Linked DNA regions of Homo sapiens: regions 2, 3, 4, 5 and 6 are each linked to region 1. Evidence: fine-mapped expression QTL. A gene starts in region 1. Each other region holds a variant in brackets. All regions are shown on one strand. Distances are between the middles of the regions. Region 1 holds the start of TESPA1 (thymocyte expressed, positive selection associated 1). Region 2 has its middle 60 kb from the start of MUCL1. Region 3 has its middle 100 kb from the start of MUCL1. Region 4 has its middle 86 kb from the start of DCD. Region 5 has its middle 41 kb from the start of TESPA1. Region 6 overlaps TESPA1 (thymocyte expressed, positive selection associated 1).

What was found. PIP is the estimated chance that this variant, and not a neighbour inherited with it, causes the effect.
Region 2: its variant is fine-mapped to the expression of TESPA1 in prefrontal cortex (CommonMind, PIP 0.95).
Region 3: its variant is fine-mapped to the expression of TESPA1 in whole blood (INTERVAL, PIP above 0.99).
Region 4: its variant is fine-mapped to the expression of TESPA1 in whole blood (INTERVAL, PIP 0.94).
Region 5: its variant is fine-mapped to the expression of TESPA1 in whole blood (TOPMed, PIP above 0.99).
Region 6: its variant is fine-mapped to the expression of TESPA1 in whole blood (TOPMed, PIP above 0.99).

Annotation. Positions count from the first base shown.
Region 1 is chr12:54,982,614-54,987,690 of GRCh38, forward strand. It overlaps TESPA1 (thymocyte expressed, positive selection associated 1), which reads right to left and starts at 2,149. Exons shown (of 11, transcript NM_001136030.3): 1 at 1,972-2,149. It overlaps LOC107984515 (a long non-coding RNA gene), which reads left to right and starts at 2,238. Exons shown (of 2, transcript XR_001749161.2): 1 at 2,238-2,352.
Region 2 is chr12:54,792,089-54,797,165 of GRCh38, forward strand. No RefSeq gene overlaps it. Among named protein-coding and RNA genes, the nearest start is that of MUCL1, 60 kb to the right of the region's middle. The variant TAAA/T (reference allele first, on the strand shown) is at 2,515.
Region 3 is chr12:54,749,306-54,754,382 of GRCh38, forward strand. No RefSeq gene overlaps it. Among named protein-coding and RNA genes, the nearest start is that of MUCL1, 100 kb to the right of the region's middle. The variant G/A (reference allele first, on the strand shown) is at 3,068.
Region 4 is chr12:54,731,505-54,736,581 of GRCh38, forward strand. No RefSeq gene overlaps it. Among named protein-coding and RNA genes, the nearest start is that of DCD, 86 kb to the left of the region's middle. The variant C/A (reference allele first, on the strand shown) is at 1,997.
Region 5 is chr12:54,941,381-54,946,457 of GRCh38, forward strand. It overlaps the pseudogene LOC105369778. Among named protein-coding and RNA genes, the nearest start is that of TESPA1, 41 kb to the right of the region's middle. The variant G/A (reference allele first, on the strand shown) is at 1,991.
Region 6 is chr12:54,962,031-54,967,107 of GRCh38, forward strand. TESPA1 (thymocyte expressed, positive selection associated 1) reads right to left here. Exons shown (of 11, transcript NM_001136030.3): 6 at 4,358-4,394; 7 at 4,023-4,121; 8 at 1,712-1,920; 9 at 401-1,212. Among named protein-coding and RNA genes, the nearest start is that of TESPA1, 20 kb to the right of the region's middle. The variant A/C (reference allele first, on the strand shown) is at 2,406.

The DNA of each region.
Region 1 (5,077 bases):
GACATCAAATATCTTCATTTGAATGGGCAATAAAGACATCAAGAATAAGAAACAGCAGTTTATCTGAGCTGATTTATAGATGGCTTCATCAAGAGAAAGTAGGGAGAATGAGCAGATTTCTCAACCATTGTGTTAGCTCTGTGAATTCGTATCTTTAATTCTTCAGTTTCATTTCCTTGGTAATAAGCTCTGTCCTGCATATATTCATTTTTCTTCTTTCCTGCTTTTCTTTTTCAATATCTACACACTCTCTTCTCCTCGTCCCTCTACTTATTTGACTGAACTCTTTTCTCAATCTGAAATCTGTGTTTAGGCCATTCTGCATCAGGCCTGGGTGTTGTAAGGCACACAGTACTGTGGGTACTGGAATATCCACTTTGGTCTTGTGCCTTAGGTGGAAAAGAGAACAGTTGTCAGTTTGCAGGTGGAAATAAACGTGTGATCTTTTCCCCTTACTGTAGCCCAGAAGGAATCTTGTAAGTCACAGCATTGGCTGAGACGAGACCTCCATACTAGAATCCAAATCAAACATTGAACTGAAAATGACGGTTGGGGCTTCATGTTCACTACATAATGCTGAATCGCAGGGTTCCATCTTAATTTTCAAAAAACCCAAGAGTTATGAGAACATGTTGGTAGCGTGGTTGTAAATGGTTTCTAAACACCCTGGGGTGCATGCGAATAACTCAGATGTTAAATTGCTTTCTATCCCTTCTGCTATATCTTCAGCTTGTTATTTCTGATAATAGTCCAAGTAGAGACAGACAATAAACCTGACTTCCCTTCTTCCTACTAACACTTCATGCTGCAAGACAATATTGTGAGATCTTTATCTCTAATCACTCAGCTGAACAACTATTGAGTCTGATACTTGGACACACAAGTTGAAGGTTCCTACCTCCAACCTCCCATCCTAGGTACTGCCCTGCACCATCTAGAAAGTCTCCTTACCTCTCTACTCAGGACCATTTGTGGTATACAGAGTCACTAGTACTTCCCTGGATATCTCCTGTAAATGCTCACAGTCTTGTCAAATCACTTCTGTGGAACTCTCCTTTCTTGTCCTTGCCCTGCCCTGGGGACCCACCCTTTTTCTTCCACCCACTGGTGAGCTTAGTGGCACAGAAGGGGCATGGGAAAACCCCAGGGTGGAGGATCTTTCCACTCCTCCATCTACCCCAAAACTCATGTAGGTGGTGATATGCTCTGCCTGCTACCACTGGGGCAAGGGGTGTTGGAGGAGCATGAAGCCCCCAATATTATGTAGGTCACTGAGAAGGCAACACATCCATCTATCTATCTTTGAGATGTGAACCCTGAAATCTGGTCCTGATGGTGGCTATCCATCTATCTTGAGCCTCCCGGTGAATTTGACCTTACCTCACTCAAGTGTGTACATCCTCCCTCGTAGCTGACCTCAATATATCTTGCTGCAGTTTATCTCAACAAGTTTCTTCTACAGCTTCTGAAGAAAGAGGTCATACCCACAGAAAGCAAAGTTGATTTCAGCCAGGTACTCTCAATGGTTGGAGCTATGGACACTAGAGTAGGGCCTGAAATGAAACCGGGAAACTTCTTCCTTGAGAACTTTTCGATGTTATAATCAGATGGAAATTGCAGCAACAATGAGTTCAGCAAGACACAGAGAAGAACTTTGCAGGTGAGAAAGGTGAAAAAAAATTCCTAAAATGTTATTCAAGTCATCAAAGAGACCCAAGTTTTGAGAATCTAGAAAGATTACCTCTCTGATAATAAAGAGAAAACAAACAAACGAAAGCAAAAGGGCACCCAGCATCGTTCTCCTAGGCATAATGATGGATGCTTTTAAGGTTGAAGTAAGAGTGGTGGGAGATTTTCTCTTGATTTTCCCTTGACTTGACAGCCTGATTTTTCTCTGACATGTTTCCTTCTTTCTCCTAGCATCACCCTAAATCAGTACAGCCTTGAAACTGAGATAAAGGCTGTGCTTACCTGTCTGCTGGTAGAAAGCTGAGTTTGAGGCAAAGCAGTTGTCGAAGCTGGGCCGAGGCCTTCACAGGTGTGGGCACAGAGGTGAAGCAAGTGAGAAAGTATCATGTTGTAGATTATGCCTTTCTCCCTGAACTCATTCAACTGCTGTTGCCTGCTCAAAAGGGGAAGCGGAAATGAGAACACACCACACACACACACATCCACACATGTAGATGCAGTCCCCGCCTCCTGGCCCAGCCACATCCTTTGCTCCGGCTCAGGAGACTGAGCGAAGGACAAACCATCCGTAGACACGGTGCTCACAACTAGGAAGACCTTCCTGCCCCAGAGCTGCCTCTGTCTTTCCAGAAAAACAGGAGATCTTTTCCTATTAAGGCAAAGGTACAGTCCATTTAAAGAGGTGTGTGCAGGAGTCTTCCTACCATATAACTAGAATTCCACTGCTGCAGATAAATCCTTCTGTCCTCAGGAGAGCTGTCTGAAAATGGGAAAGCTCTCTCTCATAAATGATCTGGCGTTTATCTCAGAGAAGAAGTTTCCAGTCGTATCACACACTTGAGAGGGCTCTGAGCCAGTCGCTCTGTGTTGATAACTTTCATACTCTGGTAAATTCCCCCGAAGCTTGTTTTTGAATACTGACTACTTTTTTTTTCTGTTAGTTTCTTAACTTTGTTTTATGTTCAAACCACTTCAAAGTTTTTGTTTTTGTAGTAAATGACTGCTTTCCCCAACGTTTTCAAAGCTGAACTTTTAAAATCGGTTACACCCTGAAGATGTCTTCAGTTTATTGGTTTTCAGTTTGGAAAAGGCTTGTTGAACTCTAAAAGGTTTCTCCCAGGCCTCAATCACTTTCACCCACCGGGAGCATCCAGCACTGCTAACTATCCCTCCTCGCTTCTCCAGTATCTCTGAACACTCTTCTCCGTAGGATGCTGCTGCATTTTGGATATCTTCTTTCTGTCTCTCTCCTGATTCTACTGTTTCCTTCTTTAAATCATTTATTTATGAATGTATATCACAATATTTATTCTACAAGGCACTCCTCTAATGTGTTAATTGTGACTGATTTTCACATGTTCATTACCTTCTTTCTGATTTTTTGGCTATAGGTATAGTTAGATTTTTTTTTTACCATGTTTCTAAATTCCATTTCCAATCATCAATGGGACAACTCCATTGAGTATCCATAGTATAGCTATAATATGGTAGAAATAATCCTAAATAAAATTCTTGCTTGGCAAATTAAGTTCTCAAAACATTATTTTCTTCAAGTATAATGTGAGGAAAATAACAATTCTCTCTGTTTCTCACTCAACCCTTCTCCCACGCTATTCCTTTTACGTAGGCATGAAAATATCTAACATATTTTCTCAGGACATAGTAGATGCTAAATATGTGCTTCTCTGAGAATTAGCTTCACAGTCAACAAGTAAAATGCTAAATCCAACACGCCCTAATTCTCTTTATTTACTATTCTTTTCCGTACAAATTAACTATAAAAGCTGAACTAATGGAAACTTAACAACTCTTTTAAATCCTAAGTTTCTAGAATTCAATGTTTTCCTTAACAGTTGTTTTCCAATATGTTTGGGAAATGGAGAATATAACTTCGGTAGGGAGTTTGGAAATATGTGAGAGAGATTTAATTTTCAAAGAAATGGGAAGCTGATACTGGTATTTAGTACCTGAGGGCCAATGATGATAAGTGCTTTTGAAGGGATGGGACTCTTCAGTATAAGGAATAATTGTCCTGGCCCAAATGTCAACATTTTGTTAACATTGATAGTTTGATGGTTAGGAGAGCAGGCTTTAGAGTGAAGCTCTGGCATCAAGTAGCTCTGTAGTCTTGGATACGTTAACATCTCTAGGTCTCAGTTTGTTAGCTGCTAAATGGGGATAACCTTACAGGAGTGGTTGTAGAGCTATAAGAATAAAGGAATACAGAGTATTCAGTCCAGCGCCTACCTTACAGCAAATGCTCAAGAAATTGCAGCTATTTTTAAGACTCTTGAAATATAATAGTTTCTTTTAACTTTTATTTTAAGTTCAGTGGTACATGTGCAAGTTTGTTACATAGGTAAACTCCTGTCATAGGGGTTTGTTGTACAGATTATTTCATCACCCAGGTATTAAGCCTAGTACCCAATAGGTATTTGTTTTGATCCTCTCCCTCCTTCCACCCTCTACCCTCCCATAGGCCCCAGTGTGTGTTGTTTCCCTCTATGTGTCCATGTGTTCTCATCATTTAGCTCCCACTTATAGGTGAGAACATGCGGTATTTGGTTTTCTGTTCCTGTGTTAGTTTGCTAAGGATAATGGCCTCCAGCTCCATCCATGTTGCTGCAAAGGACATGATCTCATTCTTTTTTATGGCTGCATAGTATTCCATGGTGTATATGTGCCACATTTTCTTTATCCAGTCTATCATCACTGGGCATTTGGGTTGATTCCATGTCTTTGCTATTGTGAATAGTGTTGCAGCAAACATACATGTGCTCGTGTCTTTATAACAGAATGATTTATATTCCTCCAGGTATATACTCGGTAATGGGATTGCTGAGTCTAAAGATATTTCTGTTTTTAGGTCTTTGAGCAATCGCCACATTGTCTTCCACAAGGGTTGAACTAATTTACACTCCCGCCAACAGTGTATAAACATTCCTTTTCCTCTGCCACCTCGCCAACATCTTTTATTTTTTGACTTTTTAATAATAGCCATTCTGAGTAGTGTGAGATGGTATCTCATTGTGGTTTTGATTTGCATGAAATATAATATTTTCAGTTTCTGCAGAATACTATGTCTATCTGTCAAAATTACCTCACTCATTAAAGATACCATTTCACAAGCAATTGCTAGAGATTTTTTTGTTAATAAAAAAGATGTATTAATTTTTGGTTTTTATTTATATTTATTCTTAATTTTTATGAGTACATATGTAGGTTTATATGTTTATAGTATTTGTGATTTATTTTTTGAAAGAAATATTTTTCTCTTCTACAAGCAGCTTCTGAAAGACAAAGATGAAGACTATATGATTCCTAGGAGGAGGAGGCGGCCCAGGGTATTCCTCTGTTTATCTTCTTTCTCAGTTGTATAGTCTTTCTC
Region 2 (5,077 bases), 190 kb before region 1:
GGCCAGCATCATTCTGATACCAAAGCCAGGCAGAGACACAACCAAAAAAGAGAATTTTAGACCAATATCCTTGATGAACATTGATGCAAAAATCCTCAATAAAATACTGGCAAACCGAATCCAGCAGCACATCAAAAAGCTTATCCACAATGATCAAGTGGGCTTCATCCCTGGGATGCAAGGCTGGTTCAATATACGCAAATCAATAAATGTAATCCAGCATATAAACAGAACCAAAGACAAAAACCACATGATTATCTCAATAGATGCAGAAAAAGCCTTTGACAAAATTCAACAACCCTTCATGCTAAAAACTCTCAATAAATTAGGTATTGATGGGACGTATTTCAAAATAATAAGAGCTATCTATGACAAACCCACAGCCAATATCATACTGAATGGGCAAAAACTGGAAGCATTCCCTTTGAAAACTGGCACAAGACAGGGATGCCCTCTCTCACCGCTCCTATTCAACATAGTGTTGGAAGTTCTGGCCAGGGCAATCAGGCAGGAGAAGGAAATAAAGGGTATTCAATTAGGAAAAGAGGAAGTCAAATTGTCCCTGTTTGCAGACGACATGATTGTTTATCTAGAAAACCCCATCATCTCAGCCCAAAATCTCCTTAAGCTGATAAGCAACTTCAGCAAAGTCTCAGGATACAAAATCAATGTACAAAAATCACAAGCATTCTTATACACCAACAACAGACAAACAGAGAGCCAAATCATGAGTGAACTCCCATTCACAATTGCTTCAAAGAGAATAAAATACCTAGGAATCCAACTTACAAGTGATGTGAAGGACCTCTTCAAGGAGAACTACAAACCACTGCTCAAGGAAATAAAAGAGGAGACAAACAAATGGAAGAACATTCCATGCTCATGGGTAGGAAGAATCAATATCGTGAAAATGGCCATACTGCCCAAGGTAATTTACAGATTCAATGCCATCCCCAACAAGCTACCAATGACTTTCTTCACAGAATTGGAAAAAACTACTTTAAAGTTCATATGGAACCAAAAAAGAGCCCGCATCGCCAAGTCAATCCTAAGCCAAAAGAACAAAGCTGGAGGCATCACGCTACCTGACTTCAAACTATACTACAAGGCTACAATAACCAAAACAGCATGGTACTGGTACCAAAACAGAGATATAGATCAATGGAACAGAACAGAGCCCTCAGAAATAATGCCGCATATCTACAACTATCTGATCTTTGACAAACCTGAGAAAAACAAGCAATGGGGAAAGGATTCCCTATTTAATAAATGGTGCTGGGAAAACTGGCTAGCCATATGTAGAAAGCTGAAACTGGATCCCTTCCTTACACCTTATACAAAAATCAATTCAAGATGGATTAAAGATTTAAACGTTAGACCTAAAACCATAAAAACCCTAGAAGAAAACCTAGGCATTACCATTCAGGACATAGGCGTGGGCAAGGACTTCATGTCCAAAACACCAAAAGCAATGGCAACAAAAGCCAAAATTGACAAATGGGATCTAATTAAACTAAAGAGCTTCTGCACAGCAAAAGAAACTACCATCAGAGTGAACAGGCAACCTACAACATGGGAGAAAATTTTCACAACCTACTCATCTGACAAAGGGCTAATATCCAGAATCTACAATGAACTCAAACAAATTTACAAGAAAAAAACAAACAACCCCATCAAAAAGTGGGCGAAGGACATGAACAGACACTTCTCAAAAGAAGACATTTATGCAGCCAAAAAACACATGAAGAAATGCTCATCATCACTGGCCATCAGAGAAATGCAAATCAAAACCACTATGAGATATCATCTCACACCAGTTAGAATGGCAATCATTAAAAAGTCAGGAAACAACAGGTGCTGGAGAGGATGTGGAGAAATAGGAACACTTTTACACTGTTGGTGGGACTGTAAACTAGTTCAACCATTGTGGAAGTCAGTGTGGCGATTCCTCAGGGATCTAGAACTAGAAATACCATTTGAGCCAGCCATCCCATTACTGGGTATATACCCAAATGACTATAAATCATGCTGCTATAAAGACACATGCACACGTATGTTTATTGCGGCACTATTCACAATAGCAAAGACTTGGAACCAACCCAAATGTCCAACAATGATAGACTGGATTAAGAAAATGTGGCACATATACACCATGGAATACTATGCAGCCATAAAAAATGATGAGTTCATGTCCTTTGTAGGGACATGGATGAAATTGGAAACCATCATTCTCAGTAAACTATCGCAAGAACAAAAAACCAAACACCGCATATTCTCACTCATAGGTGGGAATTGAACAATGAGATCACATGGACACAGGAAGGGGAATATCACACTCTGGGGACTGTGGTGGGGTCGGGGGAGGGGGAAGGGGTAGCATTGGGAGATATACCTAATGCTAGATGACACGTTAGTGGGTGCAGCGCACCAGCATGGCACATGTATACATATGTAACTAACCTGCACAATGTGCACATGTACCCTAAAACTTAGAGTATAATTAAAAAAAAAAAT[TAAA/T]AAAAAAAAAAAAAAAAAGAAACAGGAACTAATGCCAATGCTATGGACTTAGTTGCGTCCCCCAAAATTCATTGTTGAATGAACCCATCACCCAATGTAATGGTACTTAGAAATAGGACTTTTGGGAGTTAATTAGGTCTAGATGAGGTCCTAGTATGGGGTCCTTGTGATCGGATTAGGACGCTTGTAAAAAGAGACAGCAGAGAGTTTGCTTTCTCTCTCCATTATGTGAAGACACAGGAAGAAGGTGGTAGTCTACAAGCCAGGATAAGAGCCCTCACTAGAACCCCACCATGCTGGCATTCCAATATTGAGCTTCCAGCCTCCAGAATTATGAGAAAATAAACTTCTGTTGTTTAAGTCACCTAGTCTATGGCATTTTGTTGTGGTATCCTGAGGTGACTAAGACAGACAGTTTAGAGGTTACTTCTTGGGGGCTCATTCACACAGTGCGTAACCATAACATCTGCTGAACATGCTTACGGGAAGTTGTTTGGCACGCTGAAACTAAAATGTAATTGGAGGTGATTATTACCCATATGATGTTATCTTGGGAAAGACAGAATGAAACAGGGTATATGATGAGGCCCATAAGAAACTTGGAATCCAAAATTAACTTGAACTTAGCCCTTGATTCATACACCAATCCATGATAGCGTTTGGTATATCGACAAGGGCCACTCTATAGGGAAGGCTGAGAAAATACTGTTGTAATTTGGACTGATTTATTTTACAGTGATCTTAGTTGAACTCATAATATAACTACTCTTTGGTGTAATATTGGTGTCATTGGTAAGATTACTGATTTATATTATAATCTTCGTTCAACTTATAATACAACTATCTGGTGTAATACTCAGGTTACTGGCAAAATTAATTTTACTGATTTACTTAAACCTTATCTGATGATACAAATTAATTAGAGTTTTGGCAGTTATTCCTTTGCTTTTTTTTTTGTCTCCTAAATGTTGCCAAAGATGCAGAAGGAGGAGTGATGAGGAGCAATTTTTATTTAAAAAGCCTTGCCCAAGAGTCAGAGGGTGAACTATAGGGGATTTAGTTGACTTACAGCTGAATCGAAAAAACTCTAACTTTATCTCTGGAGGCTCCTGGATGTCTGCCTTTGGCTCTTGGTCAAAATAAGGGCAGTGGGATTTATGATGTCAGAAACTCCCCAGGCCAGTTTGTTTGTTGATAATTTACAAGTGTCATAAACTGGCTCAAATATGTGCCCAATGGGGCATAACAACCCCGCTGGGAACTTCTGTGTTACACTTTCCTGAAGCTAGGATTTCTTGCACAGATCTTGGTGGTTCATCTGGAAACAGAGTACCTCTCTGGGTCAATGAGAACCCTGGGAACTTCTGCACGATTGTCTCTCGGACTCCAATGCTCGTTTATACGCTCTTTCTCTTGCTGCACCATATCCTTTGCCTTTAAATATCTTAGTATTCCCTGTGGGGTTTAGAGAGGACTTTCAAATATCTGAACTTGGGAAATATTTGCATTATCCTACCACATTTCTCTAAAACATAATAGGCAAAAACATAAATTTGTATTTCATTAGTTTATAAATATTGAAGTGTTAACAATTTGGCATCAAACAGAAATAGCATTATAAAATAATTAGTAAAATTAAAACAACATTAATATGGTACAAACTATGATAAATAGTGCACAATAAAAAATTAAATATAGAGATAAAGGAAAAGCATCTTCTATCTCTTACATTACAGCATACTTAGAAGTCAAGAACTTCACTTTTATGTCCTTTAAAGGTGAGTGAAGATGGAAAATAGACAAGTGTATTCCTGACCTGGAGACCCCAGATATCCTGATTGGGGCTTCAATTCTAACCTAAGAGACCCAAAGCTATGCTAAATTGGAAACAAATTTCAAGTCCTGGTTTGTGTTTGAGTTTCAGTGATCAGGAGGTTTATTATCTTGAGCAAGTCCTCATATCCTGTTACCACTCTGATGCCTCAAATTCCATATTTTAAAAATCTAGGTAAGAATAATATTGAGTGATTTTATGAGAATTAAATAAGTTGATGTGTGTATACTTGATATAAAAATAAAGTGTTACACTAAAATGTATCTTATAATGACTCAGTAATATAATTTTTCATATTATTATTTCCTATTCTCACTGGCTCCATGATTTGCTGCAGAATCTGCCCTGGCACCCAGGGTTCTTCTGCATCTTCCCACTCACGAGTCCTGTGAATACAGAAACACTGTGTGTTCTCAGAAAGGAGCAGCATGTCCTTGGCTTCAGCCATGGCTACTGTTTGTTTACTTTGCCCAGCATTGGGATTCTGCTGGTTCTTGAGGCCCTGGCACAAATTTGGGTAATTGTATCCTTCTGGGTACTGGCAACCTTCTCCTATTTTCTGTGTCCTGTTAGGTCCTAGGTGAGAGAGAGATGAGCTTTCAGGTAGTGGATTAAAGCAAGAAGCCAAAAATGAGAGTTAAGACTTTACTCATTTACTGCAATGGTATAAGCAAGAGGCTAACACTGGAGAAAATGCTCAGTCCACCTGTTCCATTTTCCGCTTGA
Region 3 (5,077 bases), 230 kb before region 1:
TGCTGCTTGTTCATTCTTCCTGATTTTACTTTTGGATACAGCGTCTTAAGTTTCGTTACTGCACAGTTTTACAGTGACCTGCAGATGGCAGTATAGCCCAATTTAATGCAATGCCAGTAATAGAAAATGCCCTCTATTGAATGGTTTTGTTTTCCTCCCATTTTCATATCTCCATACAAAAGTTATGTCTCTAAATTGCATATTCTGCACCCTGATCCTACAGAGAAATTAGCTTTTAAGAATATTTCTTTTTTTCCCCAATTACAGCCACATGAATCCTTTCTGGGGAGGGTGGGTGTGGGTGGAATCTGGGTGGCTTCCTCTGCAGCTGCCTCAGACCCTGGGCACTGGTTACATTTTCAGTTTCAGCACCTACGTCAAAAGCTTATTTAGGGAAGGTGATGGATATATTAATCAGCTTGAGTTAATCTTTCTACAATCTATACATATATCAAAACAGCACACTGTACCCCATAGATATATACAATCATTATTTGTCGATTAAAAAAAGCTTATTGGTGAAACACATCCAACTATCGATGGAAATAAAGTGTTTCATTTTTCAAATAATTGCATCAAAAGCACTAATATCGTTACCCCACCCCAGGGATTTACTGAAGCCTCCTTGTTCTCCCTTTGGGTCTATAGATGAAGCTTAAAATTCTGACTTTCTCCCTTCCTGTGGTTCCGGGAATCCTGGCATCTTGATGCTACATTAGTGTTGGTGCTACCTATGGGCACTACCATGGTATCACATTCCTACAGCCTTACTCACCTGTTCTGCTCATTCTGTTTCTCTCTTGAAGGAACTCAAGGATATTTCCAGCATCATGTCATTTACAATTACTGCCATAGCTCCCAAGAAGGTTTTTATGCCAGAAAAATCAAAGAATATTCTGCCTTGGCCAAGCCATTTTTCTTCTAAGCAAGTGCTCCTTAGAAAGATAAATGTGCAAAAGAGTCAAGAAAAGCAAAGCAGCAAGGTTTTTTGGTTTGTGGTTAACAAACTCCTTTTAACAACTGCTTCCTCCCTACTTTCTTCTTCTTCTTCTTTTTTTTTTTTTTTCCGAGATGGAGTTTTGCTCTTGTTGCCTAGGCTAGAGTGCAATGGCACAACCTCCCTACTTTCTTTCCTTGACTGAGGTCTGTCTCTCTCTTGTAGATGCTCATATTTTTAAAACCTCTTAATGGGAGACTGCTCCTGATCCCACATTTCACATTCAAACAAAGGATCTTTTTTTTTCCACCTATACCAGCTTCCACCTTCCTCACTTTCAGACTTTCCTGGCACACGTGGACGCCTCCAGTACTTGCTCCATCATCTGCTGTATTTTAAGCCCTCGCATCCTCATCATCTAGTGTCCCTACTCCTATTTGTCTTTCCAGAGCTTTTCGACTACCTCTTTCTGGGAGGGCCCAAATCATGTTCTTCTTATTCTTTGTTTTACATTTTTACAACCTGTTATTTCACAACCTGTAGCCAGCTATTAAATAGTTATTGGATTAGATTGATTGAACTGCTTATTATCTTGCACGTGGTTCCTAAAGTAGAGATGTCTAGGAAACTGTGATACCAGTAATCCTTATGCACACCTTGGCTATATACTGCTACTGGTAGCTTAAAGGGAATACATTTCCAGATACTCAGTTTCCACATACTCTTTTCTAAAATTTGTTTGCCTGAGAACCAGCCTGTAACCAAGAAATCCTGCTGATGTGTCTTTCCCTTCTCGCTTTTCCAATTATCCTTCTATTTGAAAAAGAAAAGCAAGTTTCTCACCTATGCAGAACGGTGTAGATGCATTACACTGATGCAAAAAAATCTCTAAGACATCAGAGGGATATTTGAAATATGGTGCCAGTGTTAAGAAAGTGAATGACTTTAACGACTGAATAACCAGTCATTTTCCAAATCAAGTGGTGTCTAACTTTTTGTCAACTAATAGACTTTTACTTTTTTGGTAATAGATGTCTATGTGATGTTTCAAACATATAACTTAAAAAGGGTTCAAAGAATTGAGTTACATTGTTGAAAACGTTTATCTATTTTTGTCAACTGATTTATTTGAAATGATATTGTCAGTGCTTACAAATAAAAGTAGGAAATACAAGTAGCTTTGATGCTGAACTCTGTATAATTAAGTAACATTCATTCTTAGCTTCATGAACTAATTGGAGAAAGTCCCATCTATGAGATACATTTCCAATGTTATGTTTGATATTTGTCAGGATTTATAAGTTACATGTACTATTTTGATCAACAGTGAATAAATAAAAATTGTATCAGAAGTAAATTTTTAGCATTTGGAAACTTATGGCAACAGAAAAATTTAAATAATATACATATGTTCATTGCAGAAGAATATGATGAGGTAATCAATAACACTTTCAAGTACAAATATATATTAGGATAAAATTCTGTGGGAGGATAGAATATAAATACAAGTTCAAGAAGAAAAAAGAATCTTCTGAAATTTTTAGCTTTAAAAGTACCTTGTCTTTTAAAAATGTTTGATGGTGGGTGTCAAATTGCTATGGCATTTAGATTCCGCTGGATACATTTAAAAGAGTGAAGTAGCAGTTTTATTTAAAATGTCAGTATTATAATGTGCGAGAAGTTATATCACTTGCAACTATTTAAGCTTAAATAGTTTCTTTAAAAATCTTAAATGCCAATTACAAAATGTACGAGAGGAGATATAGTTTTTCCACATCTTTTTAGGGTGCTTGTGAGTAAATGTTTAGGAATCACTGGGCTGGGCCACAGAGTATCTCCTTTGACTCCAGGCCTAAATGGCCCCCTTCTGCTCTTGCTCAAGATTGAATTTTAGAAGTTACTACATTAGTACAATGACAGTTTAAATCTATAAATGTTAGAGGAGAAAGAGCCAAAGTGAGAATTTCCCCATTGCCTCTACCCACTGAAAACATGTCTTCATACTTGTTCTGAGCTTTGATCATTCAGAGCAGCACTCCTAGAGAATAAGTCAGGTATCAGTTGTCAATAGAAACAGTGAGGAAGGAGTTTGTACAGCAATCAGAGACCAGCAAATGATACTATGAATCT[G/A]AGGAATAAAATCAGTGAACCTGTGAATAACAAATTTGGACATGCTTATATAATTTTAGTGAAATACATTCCTTTTTGGGGGGATATCTTATGAAAACTATTTTAATTTGAATGGTAGATATGTTTAGATATGCTTAGTGACTATTATGGGTTATACATGCATTATAATGTGTACATTATACTATGTTATGTATTGAGTTGTGGCATGCCAAATCCAGGTTCACAATTTGAACATTTGCCACGAAACTACTATAAAATTCTACAATTGTTACATTATTATTTTCTTTTTATGTATGTTTCCCTGCCTAAGAATGTGGGAGATTTGTCAAAATTTGTCCTGTTTATTCTTGATTATTTTGGTGATTAATTTGTTAAATTTTCTAATATTTTATATTGGATGCTTTAAAATTGGGTGATTGTCCAAGTGGCTCATAGGCATTACAGTTTGGTTAATAAGGAATAAATGAATACTTAAGGCTGCTTAGGTATCTGTAAAGTCAAAGATTATAGTGTGTTCCCTGGCTCTGGGCTTTCTCTGTTGTGCTGTGGATTTAGGAGAACGAGAAGGAATCAGCAGTGAAATTCCTTCTGACTAAAGATGGACATCGCTTATGAACAGATGAACTATATTAGTAGTGGGAGAAGGGGAGATAATCACAAATGCTGCAGAGACTAAAAATACAATGAAGATGTCATGAATAATTTCATGGTAATGAATTTGAAAACATGAAATGTGCAAAGTTTCATAAAATGTAAATTAATGAAACCAACTCAAAAATAGAAAACCTCAATGGTGTTATGACAAACAAATGGAATCTGTAGTTAAACATCTTTCCATAAAAAGCAAGCAAACAAGCAAACAGATTACAGTAGGAGGTTTTACACATAAGTCATACCAATAATTTCAAGAATAAATAATTCCAAACATATACAACTCTTTTTGACAATATAAGAGGGAATACTATCTACTTATTTTATAAAAATAGCATAACTTTGACACTAAAATCTTTTTTTTGAATTTTTTTTTTACTGGTATGTAATAGTCATACATTTTTTGAAGTACGTGTAATGTTTTGATACATGCATGCAATGTTTAATGATCAAATCAGGGTAATTGAGATATCCATCACCTTAAACATTGATCTCTTCTCTATGTTGGGAACATTCCAATTCTTCTCTCCTAGCTATTTTGAAATGTGCAATATATTATAGTTAACTATAGTCACCATATTGTACTATCAAACAGTGCCTCTTATCCCTTTTAACTGTATTTTTGTACCCATTAGCCAATCTCTCCTCATCCTTCCTTCCTAGCCTCTGGCAACCAGCAGTCAACCCTCTACCTTCATGAGATCACCATGTACAAGTGAGAATATGAAGTATTTGTCTTTCTGTGCCTGGTTTATTTCACTGAATATAATGACCTCCAGTTACAGTCATTTTACTGCAAGTGACAGGGTTTCATTCTTTTTTAAATGGCTGAATAATATTTTATTGTCTATATGTACCACATATTCTTCATGTATTTGTCTGTTGATGAACATTTAGCTTGATTCTATATCTTGGCTATTATGAACAATGCTACAATAAACATGGGAATATAGATCTCTCCTTGATATACTGATTTCCTTTCTTTTGGACATATACCCAATAGTGGGATTGCTAGATCACATGGTAGTTCCATTTTTAGTTTTCTGAGGAATCGTCATACTGTTTTCCATAGTGGCTATACTAATTTCCATTCCCACCAACAGTATATAAGTGTTCCCCTTTCTCTGCATTTTTTTTGTTGTCTTTTTGTTAAAACCCATCTTAACTGGGATCAGATGACATCTTACTGTGGTTTTGATTTGCATTTCCCTGATGATTAGTGATGTTGAACATTCTTTCAAATACCTGTTGGCCATCTGTATGTCTTCTTTTGAGGAATGTTTACTCAGATTTTTGCCCATTTTTAAATTGGATTAGTTGCTTTTTTTGCTATTGAGTTCTTTATATATTTTGGTAATT
Region 4 (5,077 bases), 250 kb before region 1:
TACCATAAAGTCAGCTGAAGTTGCTGAACTTGTCGCCCTTACTAGAGCTTGCACATTGGCAAGAAACAAACAAACAAACAAAAACCAAAACCAAAAAACTGCCACTATTTATGCAGACTCCAAATATGCCTTTGGAAACTGTCGTACACTTGGTACAATTTGGAAATCCTGTAGTTTCTTAACCTCTGCTGGCACTTCTATTGCCAATGGGCCTATAACTGCTGGCCTATTATAGGCTATCCACCTTCCCACTAAGATTGCTGTTGTTCATTACCCAGCTTATACCAAGGATATGGATACTGTACCCCAAGGAAATGATTGAACAGACAGGGCTGCTAAATCTGTGGCCAAATGGCCCTCCCTATCCTTTTTATACTCAATTTATTAATCTGCCCTTATCCCTGTCTAACATTATTGATTATCAGGCTAGTGCCTCACAATGTGAAAAAGGATAAATGGATATTAAAGGGTGCCAAACAATTATCAGATGGGTTGTATACTGGGCCAAATAGACCCCCATAGCCCCTTTCCTTTTAACTCTTTGCCTTGCACTTATCTCCCATCAGATGGGATGTATATGCAAATGGGGAATAATTAATAAATTAAAAGATAGTTGGTACTGCCCTGGGAACTATAAAATTTATGGCCAAATTATTTCCCAGTGCACTATTTATAAATATCACCAAATCTCTAGAGGAAACCAATATTCCTCAGGAAGCCCCCAAAGGCCCATGTTGCCCCTTGCCGCGCTCCAAATAGACTTTATGGATTTACCTCCAGCTTTGTGCTTTTCTCACTGCTCCATTATTTTTCTGCATGTTCAGTGGGTGGACTGATGTTATCCAACTAGGTGTGCTGATGTTACAGCTGTGGTAAATAAATAAGTAGCAGATTATTCCTCATTTTGCTATTCCCTTATGGATTGGGTCAGACCCATGGACTTATTTCACAGCAGAAATAAACCACTTGCTTGCAGAGGCTCTGGGGTACTCATTAAAATTTTATACCCCACATCATCCCCAATCCTCAGGGCAAGTGGAACCTAAAAATTTAGACAGAAAAAGAATTTTGGGAAAATTTTGTCAAGATAGTGGACTTAAATGGCCAGAAGCATTATCTCTGGCCCTTATAAAAATCTCTAACACTTCAAATAGGAGACAGGGATTAGCCCCTTTTAAAATAGTGTTCAGTCACTCCTTACCTACTGACACCTCTAAACCTTCTCTTCTTGGGCTGAATGAACACCATGGGGATTTTTATTAAAAATTTTACTTTACGTTCTGGGATACATGTGCAGAACGTGCAGGTTTGTTACATAGGTATACATGTGCCATGGTGGTTTGCTGCGCCTATCAACCCATCATCTAGGTTTTAAACCCTGCATGCATTAGGTATTTGTCCTAATGCTCTCCCTCCCCTTGTCCCCCACCCCCCGACAGGACCCGGCATGTGTTTTTCCCCTCCCTGTGTCCATGTGATCTCATCTTTCAACTCCCATTTATGAGTGAGAACATGTGGTATTTGATTTTCTGTTCCTGTATTAGTTTGCTGAGGATGATGGCTTCCAGCTCCACCCATGTCCCTGCAAAGGACATGATCTCATTCCTTTTTATGGATGCATAGTATTCCGTGATGTATATGTGCCACATTTTCTTTATCCAGTCTATCATCAATCGGCATTTGGGTGGGTTCTGTGTCTTTACTATTATAAATAGTGCCACAATAAACATACGTGTGCATGTCTCTTTATAGTAGAATGATTTATATTTCTTTGGGTGTATACCCAATAATAGGATTGCTGGGTCAAATGATATTTCTCGTTCTAGATCCTTGAGGAATGGCCACACCGTCTTCCACAATGGTTGAACTAATTTACACTCCCACCAACAGTGTAAAAGCGTTCCTATTTCTCCACAGCCTCACCAGCATCTATTGTTTCTTGACTTTTTAATTGAAAGGTGATTAAAGATTGCCTGAACTTATCTCTCTCATACTC[C/A]CTTTGATCTTTCGCTGTGACTCTTCTTTTGAACTGTGCTTTGCTTTTACTAATTCTTGCTATTTTTCTAGACGGTCGGGCACAAACCCTTTGCACCAGTCTTTTAAATCCTGACAACATTAGTCAGTCTAATTTTGGTTATGCCAATATCTAGATGATGCAAAAGAACCTGAAATTATTTTTGTTTCTGCCAGTATGAGCACCTGGTGGATTCAGTCTAGAAGATGGATGTATGACAAGATATGGCATCCAGAACCAGAGAAACAAAGTCACATTGCCTCTCTTATGGTAAGTCAACTGGACACAGAAAAGCCACCATGGAAGCTCAAAACTGTCTTTTGCTTAGATAAAATTACTAGAAAGAAAATTTTCCTTCTGCATTGAAAACAGGAATGATGCTGGACCCTTGCTAGGTGACATACTAGGCAATATTGCAATCAGACCTTATAGTTTGATTCCACAGATGGCATTCTTGCACTTCTTACACAGACCATAGGTGGTCCTGATGCTGACTCATGAAATCAATATTTATCAAATCACCAGATGTTATGGATGGCTCACAAGCCAGCCCTGGTGTGCAACTTGGGGTAGCTTACCTGTCAGATACTAAAGATTACATATGGATAGACCCAAAGTCTGGACTGATTTGGCTAGGTGACAAAACCAAGCCCTATAACAGCCAAAACTAAAGGTCTTTTATATAAAATATTTCACAACCTGTTTTGCTCCCACAGATTGACAGGGAGACATGATAGCTGCAGATGTGGAAATGCCAATAACAAAGAAGACAAGGCACAGCAAACTTCAGGCTGAGGCGCCACAGGCTTCACCCTGACCCTATCTGTAAATAACAGCGGCCTTTTAATATTGCGTGGTAACAAGATATACAAGTGGTTCCCACCTAGATACTCAGGGTGCTGTGGACTCAGTTATCTGACATCCTCTGTTACTAGGTACTCCACTTTAAATGGCAGCCAAATTACAAATGGGCCTTTTTGTTCATAAAGTGGTGCCACACAGAGGTAATGAATGTGACTTTGTAAAAAACCCACCTATATATCACAAATCTATGTTCTTTTCAGTCCTCAGAACTTTTCCCCTGGCATTTGGAACTTAAGAAAATGAAAGGGCAGTTTAAAATCTTTCCATGGCAATAGAACAAGACTTCAGTATCACTACCCAAGCCTTGGGAGCACTCCAGTCAGAAGTCAACAGTCCAGCTTCTGCTGTACTTTAGAACTGCTGCAGCCTGAATGTGCTGACAGCCCAACAGGGAGGAGCTTGTGCAGCTATTGGTGACAAATGCTGTTTCTACATAAACCGCTCAGGGCAAGTAGAGACTGATCTGCACCTCTTGAAGGTCAAGGTAAAATATTATCCATCAGGTAAACAAGGCTAAACTGTTCTATTGGTCTGACCTATTCCTGGGAATGGGAGACTGGTTTAATGGGGTGTGGGGAAGTGTGCTTAGATATGTTCTTTTCTCATTTTAATCTATGTTCTTTTCTTCCTTTTCAGATCTCTTACTACCCAGCTACTAAACCAACTTCTCTCTCCAGAGCCACTAACTTAGGATTTTTTTTTTTTTTTTGAGACAGAGTCTCACTCTGTCACCCAGGCTGGAGTGCAGTGGTGTGATCTTGGCTCACTGCAACTTCCGCCTCCCAGGTTCAAGCAATTCTCTGCCTCAGCCTTCCAAGTAGCTGGAATTACAGGTGCCCGCCTATAATCCATACCCAGCTAATTTTTGTATTTTTAGTAGAGACGGGGTTTCACCATCTTGGCCAGGCTGGTCTTGAACTCCTGACCTCATGATCCACCTACCTTGGCCTCCCAAAGTGCTGGGATTATAGGCATGAGCCACCGCGCCCGGCCTAACTCAGCTTTTTATGTGTGAAACTTCTAGGGGAGTTCCAGACAGGGAGAATGAATAAGCTCCTTGGTATAATGTATATTTTGAATTAAAAGACTTTATAAATCAACAGGCCTCAGAAGAAACTTATCCCCTAACTTCAAAAAGATCAGATAGGCCCATCAAGAACAATTGCCTTTTCTTCCCTTCCCTGTTATCTCACTATTTCAGGAAAGAAGAGGAAGAATATAACCATACCAGAACCAACCATTTTACAAAATAATACCTGTCTCTCAGGTTCTTTTAACTTCCAAAGAAAACCATTTACAAGTCAATTTCTGTTCTCACCTTCCATTCATTCTCCTAAGTACCTATTCATTTTTCCTTAGTAATTATTTAATGCCCCTCAACCAGAATTACCTCTATATTCCCCATCTTCCCCCTCCCCTCTGAAAGAGGTTATAGAAGTGTCTGGGCCCTGTTGGGAAATTGGGTAATCACTCTATGATTCTTCTCGAGCACATGGTTAAATAAATTTGTATGCTTTTTGTCCTATTAATCTGCCTTACTGTAAATTGATTTTTTTCAGCAAACCCTCTGAGGGCAAGGGGAAAGCTCCTCCAATGCCCATACACAAGTGAAGAAGATCAAGAAGAATTTATCACAAACCTGCCTTGCTATACAAGTGTCTGATGTACAAAAGACTGAAGTGAAATACTTGTTAGCACCAATAAAATATAACTCAGTGACAAATTTTCTAAAAAGAACTTTGTATCTAGGATTGATAGGCTTGGAAAAATCTTACAAACTTTTCTTCAACATCTGAAAGTGTTTTTCAGTCTATAGTAATTGTCAGGCCTCTGAGCCTAAGCTAAGCCATCATAACCCCTGTGACCTGCACGGATACATCCAGATGACCTGAAGCAACTGAAGAACCACAAAAGAAGTGAAATAGTCAATTCCTGCCTTAACTGATGACATTCTACCACTGTGATTTGTTCCTGTCCCACCCTAACTGATCAATTGAGCTTGTGACATTCCTTCTCCTGGACAATGAGTCTCAGGAGCTCCCCACCGAGCACCTTGTGACCCCCACCCCTACCCTCAAGAGAAAACCCCTTTAACTGTAATTTTCCACTACCTACCCAAATCCTATAAAACTGGCCCACCCCATCTCCCTTTGCTGACTCCTTTTTCAGACTCAGTCTGCCTGCACCCAGGGAATCAAA
Region 5 (5,077 bases), 41 kb before region 1:
TGGGAGGTGGGAGAAAGTCATGGCTGAGAAAAGTCAGCACTGAAAGGGGACAGTGAGGAATTGGGAGAAAGGCTTGGACAACATGGAGAATGCATGTAACAGTAAAAAAAAAGCACTTCTGCTCATGGCCATAGGTCCAGAGCTCTAGCCCTGGATGCCCGCCTGCGATCTTGATCACATTCCTTTGCTCTCTCTGGCCCTTTTTTGTTTCTTTACTAACAGACAACTGGGCTAGTCCTTTTGAATTGTGGTAGTCTGTAATTTCCAGCCTCAGTTTACCCATTGAGAATGGAAATATTAGCCCCTGCTTTGCTAAGTTCACAGTGTAACAATTTGCCTTACAGCTTGTAAACAAGCCTACAACCTTATCGAGACTGCAGTGCTGCGCTCTGCTTAAGAAACCACTGAATTGCCATGTGTCTAATCCATTATTCCTAAACAATGCAGCAGCTCTGCCATCCACCCAGCTTCTGTCACTCACATGGGAGAGAGGAGGGAACTGCAGAGTGGCCTAGAAACAATGAACAGTTGTTAAGCAGCAACCAGCCAGTTCCCTTGGAGTGTGGACTCCTTCCTCCCATCGCCCCATTGCCCCTTCACTTAAGGACAGTTTGTGGCTGGGGAGGCTGGCAGAGAAGCCTGGTCCTCCCTGGTAGCCAACTGGAGAAGGTGGAGCCAGGCAGATTCTGGAGAGACCTAAGGCAGCAGGGGAGAAAGGGAAGCCTTTGTTCTCAGGGCTAATAATAAAACTTGCTGCAAACTATTCGCACTCACCAACTCAATTGTTTCAGAATCTTTGAGGTGGGTGGAGAGGGTAGGGCAGCAGGGGAGCATATACTGTTTCTTTCTCCCTCCCTGGTGTTTCCCATGCAGATCCATTTGTCACTCCTCATGGTCTGTGTGGCCTGAGACTAGAGACTGAGGAAGCCCCTAGGGAAAAGAGGAGATTATCTTGATCATACCCCCGCTACCTCCAAAATGAGATCTCTGATAGACACACACTCTAGATGCCTTTCAGTTGTCCACTTTCAGTTGTGGAGGAGTAGTGTCTGGCAAAACTGAATGTGGGGATTGCCTCATTCTGCAGCCCCAACCCATTTCCTCATGGAGATGGGATCAAGGATGCTGTTAGTCTCTTAGGTTCTTAACATGGTTTGTGTCACATGGGTCTGAGTGAAGAGACCACCAAACAGGCTTTGTGTGAGCAATAAAGCTTTTTAATCACCTGGGTGCAGGCAGGCTGAGTCCAAAAAGAGAGTCAGCAAAGGGAGATAGGGGTGGGGCCGTTTTATAGGATTTGGGTAGGTAGTGGAAAATTACATTCAAAGGGGGTTGTTCTCTGGTGGGCAGGGGCGGGGGTCGCAAGGTGCTCAGTGGGGGAGCTTCTGAGCCAGGAGAAGGAATTTCACAAGGTAATGTCATCAGTTAAGGCAGAAACCGGCCATTTTCACTTCTTTTGTGATTCTTCACTTGCTTCAGGCCATCTGGATGTATACATGCAGGTCACAGGTGACATGATGGCTTAGCTTGGGCTCAGAGGCCTGACATTCCTATCTTCTTATATTAATAAGAAAAATAACATAAAATAGTGTTGAAGTGTTGGAGCAGCAAAAATTTTGGGGAGGTGGTATGGAGAGATAATGGGCGATGTTTCTCAGGGCTGCTGTGAGCAGGATTAGGGGTGGCATGGGAACCTAGAGTGGGAGAGATTAAGCTGAAGGAAGATTTTGTGTTAAGGGGTGATATTGTGGGGTTGTTAGAAGGAGCATTTGTGTATAGAATGATTGGTGATGGCCTGGATATGGTTTTGGATGAATTGAGAAACTAAACAGAAGACACAAGGCCCAAATAAGAGAAGAATAACAGGTATTAAAGGACTAAGAATGGGAAGACCCAGGACATCCAATTAGAGAGTGCCCAAGGGGGTTCAGCATAATTACTTGCTTGGTTGGCAAGTTTTTAGGCTCTATCCTTGAGTTTTTATGTTGTC[G/A]TATACTAGGCCAGATTGATTTAGATAAAAACAACACTTCATTAAAAAATATACAGAGTCCCCCCTTTTTAGCAGTAAGTCGGGGCCTTGGCGATTTTGGAGGAAAGAGAAATGCAAAGTCAGCAATTGTTTGTTGAAGAAGGATTAGAAATGGCTAGGAGAGAGTGAGTGAGATTGATAGTGTGGTAGAGATAGCTGGGGAGAGGTAGAGGGTGGCATAAGAACAGAAACGAGAATAAGAGTGAGTTTAAGGTAAAGAATAGGACTTCATCAGGGTGAAAGTATTGGAGGGTGCCCTGCCAGCAAAGATTATTTACTTTAAGAGGGAGTTAAGAGTGGTGGTTTGGGGATAGCACCAGGAGATATCAGCTGTGATGGCTTGGAGAAACAGTGTAAACCGGCAGTGTAAACAAGAGCAGGGCATTTATGAGTAGTTGGGAATGGTGAATAGAAGAATGACTAGACAGAAGATAGTAGGGATGACAAGTTTTTGGGGCACAATCCAAGTTGGGCTGGTGTCTGGAATGAGACTGGGGCCTAATAAAAATGAGCATCCATACAGGAGCTCAAATGGGCTGTACCCTGTAGCATTCCAAGAACAGGCCCGAATTCTGAGAAGGGTAAGTTGTAAAAGTACTGCCCAGTCCTTAAGTTGGAGGCTGAGCTTGGTGAGGTGTGTCTTTAAAAGACCATTAGTCTGTTTTGCTTTTCCTGAAGATTGAGGATGGTAAGGGGTATGAAGTTTCCACTGAATACCAAGAGCCTGAGAAACTGCTTGGGTGATTTGACTAGCAAAGGCCTGTCTGTTATTGGACTGTATAGAGGTGGGAAGGCCAAATCATGGAATTATGTCTGACAGAAGGGAAGAAATGAACACGGTGGCCTTCTCAGACCCTGTGGGAAAGGCCTCTACCCATCCAGTGAAAGTGTCTACCCAGACCAAAAGGTATTTTAGTTTCCTGACTTGGGGCATGTGAGTAAAATTAATTTGCCAGTCCTGGGCAGGGGCAAATCCCTGAGCTTGATGTGTAGGGAAGGGAGGGGGCCTGAACAATCCCTGAGGAGTAGCAGAATAGCAGATGGAACACTAAGAAGTGATTTCCTTGAGGATAGATTTCCATGATGGAAAGGAAATGAGAGGTTCTAAGAGATGGGCTAGCGGTTTGCAACCTACATGGAAGAGGCTATGAAATGACAAAAGAATAGAATGGGCCTGTGAGGCTGAAAGGGGATATTTTCCTTGGTCTAAGGACCATTTTCCTTGTGTGGGAAGAGATTGATAGGTGGAAGTTTCAGTGGGGGAGTAGGTGGGAGTGACCGATGAGAAGGAGAAAAACTGGCAGTTAGGGAGAGAAATTGGAATGCTAGCTGCTTCTTTAGCTATCTTATCAGCATAAGTGTTGCCCTGAGTGATGGGATCTGATGCCTTTTGATGGCCCTTGCAGTGAATGACTCCAGCTTCCTTTGGAAGTATAGCGGCCTTGAGAAGACTATTTGTTAAAGAGGCATTAATGATGGAGGACCCTTGTGTAGTGAAGAAACCTCTTTTTGCCCATATAACAGCATGGTGGTTCAGGATATGGACGGCATATTTAGAGTCAGTATAAATATTGATGTGTACTCCTTTTGCAAGAGTGAGGGCTCAAGTTAAGGCAATGAGTTCGGCTTGCTGAGAGGTAGTGGAGGGGGGAAGAAAGTATATGCATCAGATGTGAGGAAGAAAATAGATTTTGGAAGTTATGACAACTGCAGAGAGTGAGTTGAGCATAGTTTGTGATTTTGAGGACCTCTAAAAGTATTAAAGCAGTGGTACCTGCCACATGCAGACATGAGGGCTAGGCTAAAACAGTAACGTCAAGTTGTTTGGACAGAAAGGCTAAAGGGCGTGGTCCCAGCTCTTGTGTAAGAACTCCAACTGCACAGCCCTGCACTTCAGCTGTGTGTAGTGGAAAGGGAGTGATAAGTTAGGGAGAGCTAGTGTGGGAGCTGTTTTTTAAGGAATGGATAGGGGAGTGGAGAAAGGATTTAGGATCTATGGGGTCAGCTAGGTTTACCTAGAACAGAATAATGGGTTGTGGAGGGAGGTATTGAGGATAGGAGAGTATATGAGGTTTCACACCACAGGGTGGATACGCAAAACAATTTGGTTGATAAGGCACAGATCCTGACGTAACCTGTAAGACTTGTCCAGTTTCTGGACAGGTAAAATGGGGGAATTGTAAAGAGGGTTTATAGGCTTTAAAAGGGCATGCTGTAACAGGCAAGTGATAACAAACTTTAATCCTTTTAAAGTTTGCTGTGGGATGGGGTATTGGCATTGAGTGGGATAAGGGTTATTAGGTTTTAATGGGATAGTAATGGGTATGTGACCAGTTGCCAGGGAGGGAGTAGAGGTGTCCCATACCTGTGGATTAAGGTAGGGAGATACAAGGGGAGGATTTGAAGGAGGCTTTGAACTGGGGAAAAGGGTGGCAATGAGGTGTGGCTGTAGCCTAGTCAGGGAAGCAGATAATCTAGTTAAAATGTCTTGGCCTAATAAGGGAGCTGGGCAGGTGGAGATAACTAAAAAGGAGTGCATAAAAGAATATTGTCCAAGTTGGCACCAGAGTTGGGGAGTTTTGAGAGGTTTAGAAGCCTGGCTGTCAATACGCACAACAGTTATGGAGGCAAAGGAAACAGGCCCTTTAAAAGCAGGTAATGTGCAGTGGGTTGTCTCCATATTGATTAAGAAGAGGAAGGACTTACCCTCCACTGTAAGAGTTACCGAAAGCATCTGTGATGGTCCAGAAGGCTTCTGAGGCAAGTGGGCAGTGTCAGTCTTCAGCCACTGAGCCAAGAAGATCTGGGAAGGAGTCAGTCAGAGAGCCTTGGGCCAGAGTTCCAGGGGCTCTGGGAGTGGCTGCCAGGTGAGTTGGACAGTCCGATTTCCAGTGGGGTCCTGCACATATGGGACACAGCTTAGGAGGAATCCCAGGCTGTGGGCATTCCTTGGCCTAGTGGCCAGATTTCCAGCACTTGAAACAAGATACTGGGGGAGGAGGTCCTGAAGAAATGCCTGACTGCTGTGGCTTAGGCGTTTTGAAGTTC
Region 6 (5,077 bases), 21 kb before region 1:
GAAATCTGGACTTCTGGGTCTTTATGGTTAGATATTTGTCAAGGTAAGGGAGAATTTATTTTATTTAAGAGTGGTTAGCTTTGTGTAAAACTGCTCTCCATTTGTAATCTCATGAGGACCACAACAAATGGTGATGAGAGGTGTACTTAATGGGAACATTAAATGGCAATCAGATCAGGTATTACCAAAGGAGCTCTGAAAACTCGACTGCTCTTAGGAAACCAGGCCTCTGTCTCTTTCTCCCTGTATATTAACCCTGAATTGAAATCAGAAAGTGGTATATCTGGCTAGGACAGGAAGCCTGGATTATTTTTCCCCCAAGGGTTCTAACCCTTCATCTTCTGGGAAAGAATCTACAGCCTTTCTCTGCCAGTCTCTCCCTCACCTCCAACCCACTTACCTCCTCCAAGTCAAAAGTGTCCTGTGGCTGCTGGCTTAAAGACCGACGCAGTTCTGGTCTGTCTACACTCTGCTTCCATTTCTGCTGGGTGATGGACAGGTCCAAGGACTTAACCTTCCTGCCCATGAGATTCTTCTGGAAGAGGCTCTTTCTTGCTCTGCTCTTTCTTTTCCAGAAAGTCTCATCCTTGGCTGGATGGGTTTCCGTATTGGTGGCTGGTAGACTACACAGCTCTCTCCTTATCTGAGCTGGGTCTGTGCTCCACTGTGGATCTTCTATGGGCAGAGAATGTGTGCAACAGGGTACCTTGGGGTTCGAATCCAGAGTTTGGGATGGTGCTAGCACTGTGGACATCCTCTGCTGTGTTTCCTCTTCACAGCAGAAGACACATGGATAGGGAGAAGTGGGCAACTTCTTACCCTCAGCAGGGGGCACAGGATCTTCCTGTGAGAATTGCCCCAAATCAGAGTCTTGCTGGAGGAACTGCTTCTCTTCTTTCACTTTGTCCATCACTTCCAACACAACTTGGTCCAAACTGTTCCTTTTGGGGGTGTTGTGGGGTGGTGGTGGCCGGTCTCGGGGGCATGTGTACAGACACATCTTGGAGATGGCTTTCCGAAGGCGGTCTCTGGGTGACTGGGGTTCAGGCTCTCGGGACAGAATCCTGATGGATGGCACATCAGTTGGATGGTTGCAATTCCAGAACATGTGGGATGGTGTGAACTTTTGGACAGGTGTCTTAGACACATAGGAGTAGAGACAGAAGAAGGCATCAGCAGTGACAGCCAGTGTTTGCACCTGCTTAAACCTGCCTGGGTACAAGAGTTAAAGATGGTAAGTCTGGGGTTCATCAGCAAATCTTCTTAAATCTCTCCCTTCAGGAGGCTCCCCAAAGCTCAAAATTCAGGGAGAAGCTTCCAATTTTCCTACTAGTGTTTCTCCCTTTTAGATTTCTAACACTCTTTTTCTGGAATTTCGTAACTTCTTGACACCCCATCCCATGTAGATATTCCAACTGGGAAACAAAAAAGAGGGATAAGATTTATAGACATCATGCTGATATGATTGACTGAAAGGCAAGAAGGCCTAAAGGAAGCAGTAGTGGCCTGAAGTCTCTTAAAGGCTATTTCTTTAAGAGAAAGAATCAGACAGAGTTCTCCATCTTCACTGAAGACAACATAAGAGGAAATAGACACAATAGGCAAAGGGTTAAAGATAACCAAGAGAAAGCAGGATTTGAAGCCACTGAGCCCTGCTGTGAAAATCTAAAGGAAAAGGGAAGTAGAGCAGGTGCCTGGGAGGGACACTCACTGGCCAGCATGAGGCAGGGGTCTTCCATTTCAATCCTCCGCACCTGGGACTTCAGGAAGAGCTGGAAATCAATGCCCTTGGCCTGAGAGGGGGTGGTGAAAAATCGGGCGGGTATCCGAGAAGTGTCTTTGTGATCCTCTTGGCCAAAGCCCAGACTGAAGAGGACATCTTCTGCATCTTCTTGCACTTTGTCCAGAATTTCTGAGATGCTGAAATGAGGGAGTTTGGGTAAATAAGGGACAACTTTGAGACACATGGTAATTCAGAATATCAGAATATCTAATAAAAGTGTCAGAAGACTGAAATTCTTTTCTGTCCATTTCTCTACTTTTCACTGTGACTTTGAGAAAAGCTTTCACTTCTCTGAACCTAAATTATCTGTTGGAAACATGGAAACTACAATCCAACCCTAGTTATAAAAACTGAATAAAATTTTAGTACAGTACTTTGAACAACTTATTGCAGACGAATAAAAATTTAAGTAAATATAAAAGGATTTTGAAAAATAAGAGCAGCATAGATACAAATAAATTTCACAGTTGCATCATTAAGTGCTCAGTTCCCAAATTTGCCATCCGACTTGCCCCAGTGGTTGTTGCGTGGGACAACTAAGCAATGAATATGTAAGAAACATAGAACCCCTGAAGGTAAACATTTTTATTCTTGATCTTAGGGCAAAAAGTAATCAATAAGC[A/C]CATCCAAAACCTGATTTTGAGAGGTATGCTCCTTTCTAGCACTATTTTCAGTACAGAAGTCCTGTGTCACAGAAGATCCCGTGCACGCACTCTCTCTTTATGGTATCAACCTGGATTTATGTCTAAATCGGAGTTCCACCAACTTGGGTGACACTAGAGCTTAGTAATTGTGTTTCAGACAGTGAGGCTAAGGGAAGCTGTTATTATTTGAGGCTTTGAATAATCACTATCACTCTCTTCAGAAAGTATGCTGGGCTTTTTGATCAAATAGGGACCATCTTGTTTAGCTAATAGCTGGACGGTCGGAATCCCTGGATCTACTCTTGTCCTTGCCAGCTTTTATCTCCATGGTCCTAAGTTTCCCTATCTGTGAATTGTGGGCGTAAAACTGGATCAGTGCTTCTCAACCATGGCTACATGTTAGGGTCACCTTTGCAGGCTTTAAAAATGCATATATTTGAATCCCATCTTCAGACATTCTGATTAAATTGAACTAGGGTATGAACTAGGACTAAGGCTCAGTGAGGATAAATTACTAAATTTGGTCATGTGACAAAATTTAAGTCTCAGAACCAGGTCTCAAATTCAAATTTTGACTTCAAATTTCAGATACTTTTCATTATATCATACTAGTTTTCCTGACTTTTCATCTTTTTCAAAGAGTTATTTGTGTGTATATTTTGTCCACCCTATGAAATCATTCAGCTCCTGGGATCAAGCTATTTGTCCGCTTCATCTTTTCTTTTTTTATTTTCATTTTTGTTTTAAGTTCTGGGGTACATGTGCAGGAAGTGCAGGTTTGTTACATAGGTAAACGTGTGCTAGGGTGGTTTGCTGCACCTATCAACCCATCACCTAGGTATTAAGCCCAGCATGCATTAGCTATTTTTCCCAATGGTCTCCCTCCTCTCACCCCATCCCCTGACAGGTCCCAGTGTGTGTTGTTCCCCTCCCTGTGTCCATGTGTTCTCATTGTTCAGCTCCCACTTAGACGTGAAAACATGTGGTGTTTGGTTTTCTGTTCCTGTGTTAGTTTGCTGAGGATAACGGCTTCCAGCTCTATCCATGTCCCTGCAAAGGACACGAACGCGTTCCTTTTAATGGCTGCCTAGTATTCGTGTATATGAACCACATTTTCTTTATCCAGTCTATCACTGATGGGCAGCTGGGTTGATTCCATGTCTTTGCTATTGTGAATAGTGCTGCTTCATCTTTTTCAAATTCCATACAGTCATTGCCTGGCCTGCCTGTCCGAATGAATTAATATTTTATTGCTTCATTCAGTCAACAAATTAGTCAATTAATCAATACATTGTTTACTGAGCACCTACTCTGAGTCTTGGAACTGTGATGGTACCAGTACTATACCTCCTGGGGTACAAGTTTCAGTGGGAGGAGACACCTGTATTTTACACATAGTATTCAGCTCTGAGAAGACTCCTCTGTGTCTTTCACAATTCTTGAAACAAATATGGTCACATTTTTCAAGTATGCAGTAAAAGTGCATAAAAGCTCCAGTAAGATATCCCAGAAAAAACAGGCAATGGCTCTTGGTTCCATTCTCCTATGCTTCTCATCTTCTCCACCCTTCCACCCTGCCAAACTTCAGTACCTACCTTGAACTAGTCTTGTTGGTCCCCCCAGTCATGCTGCTGGAAGCCAAACTACAGCCAAGATCAAGTAGCTGGCAAGGCCTGGCTGTCTCGAGGAAACTCCTGCAGAGATCAAAGCTGATGTCATACAAATCTTGTTTCCAGTCTGCACCCTGGCTTCGAGGAATCCCTGCTGGACTTATTCACCCCCTGAACAGTAGTCTATGCAGTGCTTGTTCGTTGGAAAGTCTCACTCTCTAATGTGAATCTTTAGCTCTTTATTTTAATCTCTTTGACCTACCCCAATTCACTGATTCTTAAAGGAGACATCATTCACCCTGGCTGAACCTAACACTTACCTGGAGAAGAGTTTGCCATTGGCGGCCAGTAGTGTGGCTGGACAAGAAACAGAGAAGCAAAGAGCAAATTAGAAGGGAAAATGAAAATCACCTGTGTTGCCCCTCTGAACCTAAAACTCAGTCCCCTCTGTTTCTTTTTGTGACTATGACAGGCTAGCTGGACCCCATAAATTCTGCACTTCTTGGGGCCTCAAGATTACCTAACACAGTTCTGGAATAGGGACAGATATGCCAGAGAGTAACTGGCCTTAACCCTATGAACTTCTGACCCATGACTGATGTTTAGGCAAGAGCCCCTCTGTCCTAAAAAGGATAGAGTCATTTGGCCTTCCTGGCTAGTGTTCCTGTCCCCCTACACAAGTCTTTACAGCTCCCAGGAGACACTGGTAGGTTGCTGTGCTTTCATTCTTTACTGATGTCCTTCTCCTCCTGCAGTATAGTCTCTATTTTACATCCAATGCACAGACTTGTTTGGAGTTTCTGTACAGAAAACAGTCTTAAAGCTATCTGGGCAGCAAACATTATAGTAATTTTATATGTTATCATCCCAGGGGCCAAAGGAAAGTTCCAGTGATGAACCAGTAAGAGTCATGGTAGGCTGATGAGGAGGTGTTTCTGGGCATGTGATGCCTTCTGCATTTTACATTAGATAATAATGAGACTGCCCTTTCCCTGTAGATAAGACCCCAGGGATGGGCTGTTTCTTTCTGAAGTTTTGCA